Homo sapiens: one gene and its partner. The gene in region 1 interacts genetically with each later gene. Each region holds a gene or a part of one and is shown in the gene's direction. Other genes may lie near its edges.

Region 1 (3,500 bases):
GAGTGTGAAGTTTAACCTCCCAGAGCTGCAGGTTCCTTATCTGTAATGTGGAAATAAAATGGCACGCACCTCAGAGCCTTGTTAGATAAAAGACAAGGCAGTAGGAAGTCTTGATACGGTGCCTCGATGGGTTATCAGTAGCTCATCCTCATATTTCTAGTTACGTCTGTGCTGGAGGATGCCTTTGTCTGCTGCTTTTCCTCCCACCATCTATCCTTGCAGAGTTTCTAAGCACAACCCTCTTCGCCCGTGGGGCCCCAGTCAGGTCATCCAGATGGGTCTGGTGGGGTTGGAGAGGGTGTGTGTGTTGTGGGTGCACACCTGCCTGCTGCTTTTGGAAGCCGATCGAACTCCTTGCTTCCCTTAACCTGCTGCTTGCTCACCTGGAGCTGTGGCCTAGCGGGGCTGACGGCTGTGGGGCCCCCTCCTGGATGTGCCTTTGGCTGCGCTGCCCTGTCCCAACTGTGCTGCTTGGCTGTGCTGGCCCGGCTGGGCCGTGGTGGTGCTGTTCTAACGCTTGCAGTTGTCTTGCAGCCTTTTGCTCCTGTGAGGAAAGGGTTGTGGCCTGGCCCCGCCCAGGGCTCGGGTTAGGATGAGCCCAAGCTCAACCCAAGCTCTCCCTTACCCTGGTGGCAGCCCCTGCTGGTAGTGGCATTCCCTATAAGAGAAGCCCATGCCGGCAGGACATCACCAGCTGTCCCTTGGCTTTGGATGGGTTGGGGAGGAGGCCTCTGGAGGGCACCACCTCTGCCTGCCTGTCAGTCTGAGCCCTGTCTGGTTTTCCTGAGGAACACGTCCTGGCAATGAGAGCTGGTGTGAAATGTGCAGCTTTCCCAAGCCTCGAGAGGTAAATGGAGCAGCCTCTCTGGTACAGGCTGTCCCAAGTTTTTACAGTTCTGGGATCATTTCTCCCAGAAAAGCCCTGTGGAGTTGAGCAGTGGGAAGCATCCATCCTAGGGTTCTGATGGTCCTTTGGCACCCCAGCCCTAGCTGGATTCTGCTGTCAGGCTACCTGTCACCCAGGGCTGGGTCCTGGCCACTGAATGAGGGCTACGAGTGGGGGTGGTGATTGAGACCTGACTGAGCCCCTTCAGGTGAGAGAAGTAAATTGGGGGTGGAAGCGGCCTTATTGGGAGATGCTTGTGAGAGAGGCTGCTCATACAGGGGAGGGGCTCACAGCATTCACGATGTACCAGGCTCCTCACCTGTTAAAGGCAAGCGTGTTTTCTGCAACCTGGTTGTTGATGGAAAGGGAGGCAAAGGCCAAAGAACCATAACTAATGGCTGGGCTTCAGGAGAAAGTGGTCATTGTCTCTGCAGACTGCAGAGAGGGAGACGGGAGGGAAGGTGTGTTCGCTCTTCCTGCCAAGGGCCCTAGAGACAGAGAAGAGGGATGTCTTTGTCATAAGCGATCACAGGGGACTCCTGAGGACTGGGGAGGGCTCTCTGTAACTTGGGAGGTTCCCCAGTAGGTAAATTGATGGATTTTTCTCCCCCACAGTGCGAAAACAGGAGATCATTAAGATTACAGAACAGCTGATTGAAGCCATCAACAATGGGGACTTTGAGGCCTACACGTAAGTAGAGACCCATTTTTTTTTGTGACCTAAGTCATCTCCCAAGGCCTTCCCTGCTTCCAGACAACAATTAGGACCCTGGGGAAAGGGAGGTTGGACCTTGGGCAAAGTATCTGAGTTAAGCCCTCTCCTAAACTGGGAGCCCTTCCAGGTAGATTCCCTGAGCTCACCCATGGTATCCTGGCAGTGGGCCGAAAGCACAGGGCTGAGTGGCTCAGCAGGCAGGCCTGGAAGATCTTTGCTGTCTTGTCTGGCATGGCCACAGGTAGCCTGCTGCTACTGGATAGACACCGCTGATAAGGAAGGAAGACAAGTCACTCCATAGAAGCCTGATAGGCTGCTTTTTTTTTTCTCCCTGTAGGAAGATTTGTGATCCAGGCCTCACTTCCTTTGAGCCTGAGGCCCTTGGTAACCTCGTGGAGGGGATGGATTTCCATAAGTTTTACTTTGAGAATCGTGAGTGGGTTCGTGCTGCTGATATACTCCTGCCTGCCCCTTTACCCCTTTGTCTCTGTCTCCTGCTCACCTTCTCATCCCAGTTGCCCACTTTTCCCTTATTTGACCTTCGTGCTGCACTCCTACTCTGTATGCTTGTCCCCTTGTGCCCCGATGGTTGTAGACAGGCACCTTTGAAGGCCCTGCTCCTGAGCTCCAAGTGCCATTCATTCTGCAGCTGCTTTGTGGCAGTGCCAGTCACCACAATCAAGCTCACTTATTTCTTGCCGGGCGCGGTGGCTTACGCCTGTAATCCCAACACTTTGGGAGGCTGAGGCTGGCGGATCACGAGGTCAGGAGATCGAGGCCATCCTGGCTAACACGGTGAAACCCCATCTCTACTAAAAATACAAAAAATTAGCCGGGCGTGGTGGCGGTGCCTGTAGTCCCAGCTACTCGGGTGGCTGAGGCAGGAGAATGATGTGAACCTGGGAGGCAGAGCTTGCAGTGAGCCAAGATCAGGCCACTGCACTCCAGCCTGGGCAACAGAGCAAGACTCCATCTCAAAAAAAAAGAAAAAATTATTTAAGCCTCACCTCTTTCCAAGACGGATTGGAAGGAAACCCTTTGAGATTAGGTTGAGATGATCTCAGCACATAAGAACTAAGCTCTGTGTCTGCAGGTTTCACAATAGAGGAAATTAAAACCAGGATAAGAATGTGCAAACCAGGGCACTGTTGGTGATTTGCGAGATCGGAAGTTGTGGCTAGAATCTTCCTGACTATGGAGGAAGGCAGACGTCTTGTATAGGGGGTGGGGTGTACATTCTGGACAGTTCATGGAAAATAAGGGGATAAGAAGCTGAATCATCACCCCCTCCCATCTTTCTCTCTGCTCTATGAGACCCTCCCCTTCCTTATTTTTATCTCTTCCCACTTTATGCTGGGCCTTCCCTATCCTGCCCTGAGTTATAGTTAGTCACTAACTTCTCCGCTGGCTCCCACCCTTATCACATCTCAGCTACATATATAAACTCTCTGTTATCTAAGTAATTCTATTAGCCAGAAGCAATTCCAGAGTTTATATTAGTACTAGGAAGGTGTCATGTAGCCCCTGTCTAACATTTGAATTGAACTAAAATGTGAATCTCAATAAAAGCAACACAGTTTTCACAGCATATGCTGATAATGGCAATCCAACTTCTTTTGCCTTTTCCCCAGAGAATCCTGGGAATATCCTGAGCTTGGTGCTTTGATGATTCTATTTCAGCTTTGGTGCCTTAAAAAAAATTACAAATCAATTTTGAATGGTTTAAGTTCATGATTTTGTTCTGCAGCCCTAGCTAGGGGTGAGCCAAGCCTTATGAAATCTAAACTCAGCCTAACAGAATAGAAAATCTATAGGCTTTAGTTAAGAGTCACATGGTCCTGAGTTCAGGTGTGTGATTTGAGCAAATTATTCCTTGAGCCTATTTCCTCATCTTATAAT
Region 2 (3,500 bases), on another chromosome or scaffold:
TAGTTTTTATTATTCTGAAAAAGATTTGAATCAAACATCTGCAGAATAGATCTTAAAATTTAAGTAGTATAAAACTACTGCTCCAGGACAGATGTCCTCTGGTAAGATGTATAAAGCTATAGAAAATAATTGCTAGGATCTCATGAGTGGGTAGAAATTCGAGTCTTTCACCTGTGCAAGGACTCAAATTTGGACTACTGCCATTCCAAACACTTGCATTTTCAGACAAGGTGAACACTTTCTTTAGCAAGCTGTAAAAGCAGCAATCATGTCTTCATTTCATACCACTCTCCCCACCCAGTATTTATAATTACTATTTTAAAACTGATCATAGTGTTATACAGTCATTTAAAAAAAATGTAAAATACAGAAAAACACAAAGGGAAGCAAATTATCAATAATCTTAACATCTTGCTAGGCTTTTTCCTGTACAAAAACTGTTTTTTTTTTTAATGGGACATGGTATATTAAATACTTCGTAATATGCTTTTTAACCCCATTTTCAGTGACTACATGATGTCATCATCAGTGGCTATGTGATAGTCCATCAAATAGATATGCAATAATTTATATTAAGTCAATAACAATATATGCAGTTGATCAGAATTCTAATGGACTTTCAGAATCTTCCCAGTTTTTCTCTCCTATAAACAATTTTATGAGTGACAGAGACAAATCTTTAGATGCATTTCTAAGGATAGATTCTTAAAAGTGGAATTGCTGGGTCCAGCATTAAGTACTATTCTCAAGTTTTGGATAGTTTCTGCCAAATTTTCCTCCAAGAAGTTTAAACTCTTCACCCACGAGCATCCTCTTAGTGTGAAATCCCATCACTCTTGGTTCTTCTCTGTCTGCAGGTGAAGGGAAGGCAGTGCCTTGTTTATATTTCTTTCCCACATCTGGATCTTTCACTGGTTTACTGAAAGATTTTCTGACATGAATCGAGGCTCTGGGTGCAAGGTTGAGAAACTGCTGTAGGCAAAGTGCTGTTGGTTTTGTCCAAATTTGGCTTAAAATCTTTCCCTTTGTTCCTCCAAGAAAGAACAGAGAGCCTGTTTACCGAGTTTTGGCAGAAATAGTAGGTATTAAAATGCTGCTTGCTAGACACATTCAGGACAGAGAGACAGACTGTAAATTGAAGTGTTAGTTTTTTAATTATACCATGGGGATAAAAAGTTTTTAATGTCATTAACAATAGCACACACCATTTCATTATATATGAGATAATATGGATTTGGTTTTAGCTCATAGACTGGTACCAGATGGCCTGGGTTCAAATATCCACTCTGCCATTTACTGGGTAGACTTGAGCAAGTTGCTAAACTTGCCTGTTCCTTAGTTTTCTCAGCAGTAAAATGGAGATAAGTAGAACCCATCTCTTAGAGTTACAGGAAAGAATAAATGAGTTAAGACATGTACAGCATGTGGAACATTTCTTGCCACATGGTAAGAGTTCAATTAGTGTTGGCTGTTAATACTGTTCCTTCCCCCACTACCCCCATCACTACCTTTCCATGGAGCAATGGATGAAGCACAGAAACATTTGGTCTTGGATTTGACCTTGACTTCTGTAGCTGAAATCATCTCTCCTTTGAAGTAACGGGTTGGATTAACGGGTGGTTTCTAAGATCCTTCTAGCTCAGGTTGGGTCTACTGTTTATGGTGAAATGAAGGGGACAGTGAAAAGGAAACCTTGGCAGTGACTACTGTTTACTAACTACTTCCTGCCCAGGGAGGACAGAGCTTAAGTGTGGGCCAGAGGAAACTAACCCTTTATCCCCCAATGTTTCGTTCTTTCTCCAGTGGTGTCAAAGTATGATTGCATCAGATTTTGCTGATGGCTAGTTGGCTGGCTAGATGATTGGTCCCTCAAAATTTTATTGTGTACTTTTTTCATTTTTTGGTCATTTATTAAATATTTATTGAGCACCTACAGTGATTGAACAAAACAGAGCCTTGAACAAAACAGAGAAAGTCACTCTTATGAAGATTACTTTCTAGTGGGGGAGCCAGAAAGTGAACATATTTCATAAATGTTATGAAAGGAGGTAAAAATGCAAGGACGAAGAGCAAAGCAGAGTAACCAGATAGAATGTGGCAGAAAGAGGACTACTTTTAGATGGAATGGTTAAAGACAGGGCCTCTCTGAGGAGACTGTACTGGACCCAGAGAACTGACTGAGTGAAGAAGGAATCCATATGCATATGTGAGAGAAGAACATTCAAGAACAAAGGACCAGTGAGTGCAAATACCTTGATATGGAACCAATGTGTGAGAGGGAGCAGGGAGAACAGTGAGAGGAGAAAGATGGCCAAGGGCTGTCTAAGCCAAGGCAAAAGCTTTGAATTTTTCCTAAGTGACATGGGATATGGGAAGCCATTGGAGTATTTCGAGCAGAGCAATATGACTGACTTCATTTTAAAAGACTCACGCTAGTGCTGTGTTGAGAAAAGGCTGTAGCGGGGAAGTATGAAGCAGGGAGACCAGTTAGCAGACTAGGCTGGTGACACTTAAGGTGGTAAGAAATGATCAGATTTGGGCACATTTTAAAAACCAACATCATGAGATTTGGTGACACAATGAACGTGGGATGTGAGAAAAATAGTCCACTATGATTTCAAGGGTTTTGGCTGAAGCCACTGGATTCGTGAAATTATCACTTGCTGAGATGGGAAAGAGTTTAGGGAAGGAGGAAATTTGGGGGAGAAATTGAGTATTTGATTTTAGACATAAATTTAGAGGCCTATCTCATATCCAAACGGTATGTTGAGGAGGCAGTTGAAAATGCAAGTCCAGAATTTAGGAGAGGGGATATACTTGTGAGACGAAAAAACCCTCAAATGTTAATGAAGTTTGCCTGTTGTTCTAAATAAGTAACATTTATTGATTCATTTTCTGATTGCCAAGTAGCTTACATGACTTTCTTCCAAATTCTGAAAAGTTGCCTGTAATCCAAACACCCTTGAATACTGCAGTTAACATTTTGGATGTATTTCCTTGCAGCCTTTTTTTTTTCTTCTCTCTTTCTTTCTGTGTATGTGTTTGTGTGTAAATGTGAGTTTGAGTGTGTTTTGACCAAGTTGAAATTATAACGCATTGTATATATTTTGTTTACAAGCTATCCTAGTATTTTTTTAAATGTATGAAATGTTATCAGAAAGCGTTTTCATAATGATTAGCAGTGTATTTCACGGAATGGATGAGGTTAACATATTAAACTAACTGGAGGAGGGGCTAATATAACTGTTGCCACATTGAATATATTCATACACATCTATATTTTTCTAAAAGTGGAATTACTGGGCCAAAAGTAAACTGTATAATTCTCTGAATTCTTTAAAAAAAAAAGAAAATCAGTTCACTATCCAAAAAAAGCAGGAATCAGTTCACTATCCAAAAAACGCAGGGTTCAGGCTCCTGAAAGCCTGCAAATAAAATTAAATATCTACCTGTGGTACATGGAAGACCTACTTTATGGTAGACCTACTTTATAATAGAAT

The links. Genes that interact genetically often act in the same process or in processes that back each other up.
Region 2: changes in CAMK2G (region 1) and SKP2 together harm fitness more than expected from each alone (negative genetic interaction), as found in Homo sapiens cells (one large-scale study listed by BioGRID).

The regions. Positions count from the first base shown.
Region 1 is NC_000010.11:73,815,556-73,819,055, reverse strand, and holds part of CAMK2G (calcium/calmodulin-dependent protein kinase type II subunit gamma), read left to right. Parts: intron 1-160; exon of another isoform or gene 161-788; coding exon of another isoform or gene 789-847; intron 848-1,501; coding exon 1,502-1,577; intron 1,578-1,938; coding exon 1,939-2,033; coding exon of another isoform or gene 2,034-2,347; exon of another isoform or gene 2,348-3,189; intron 3,190-3,500.
Region 2 is NC_000005.10:36,172,611-36,176,110, forward strand, and holds part of SKP2 (S-phase kinase-associated protein 2), read left to right. Parts: intron 1-3,500. UniProt on the Homo sapiens protein: Substrate recognition component of a SCF (SKP1-CUL1-F-box protein) E3 ubiquitin-protein ligase complex which mediates the ubiquitination and subsequent proteasomal degradation of target proteins involved in cell cycle progression, signal transduction and transcription.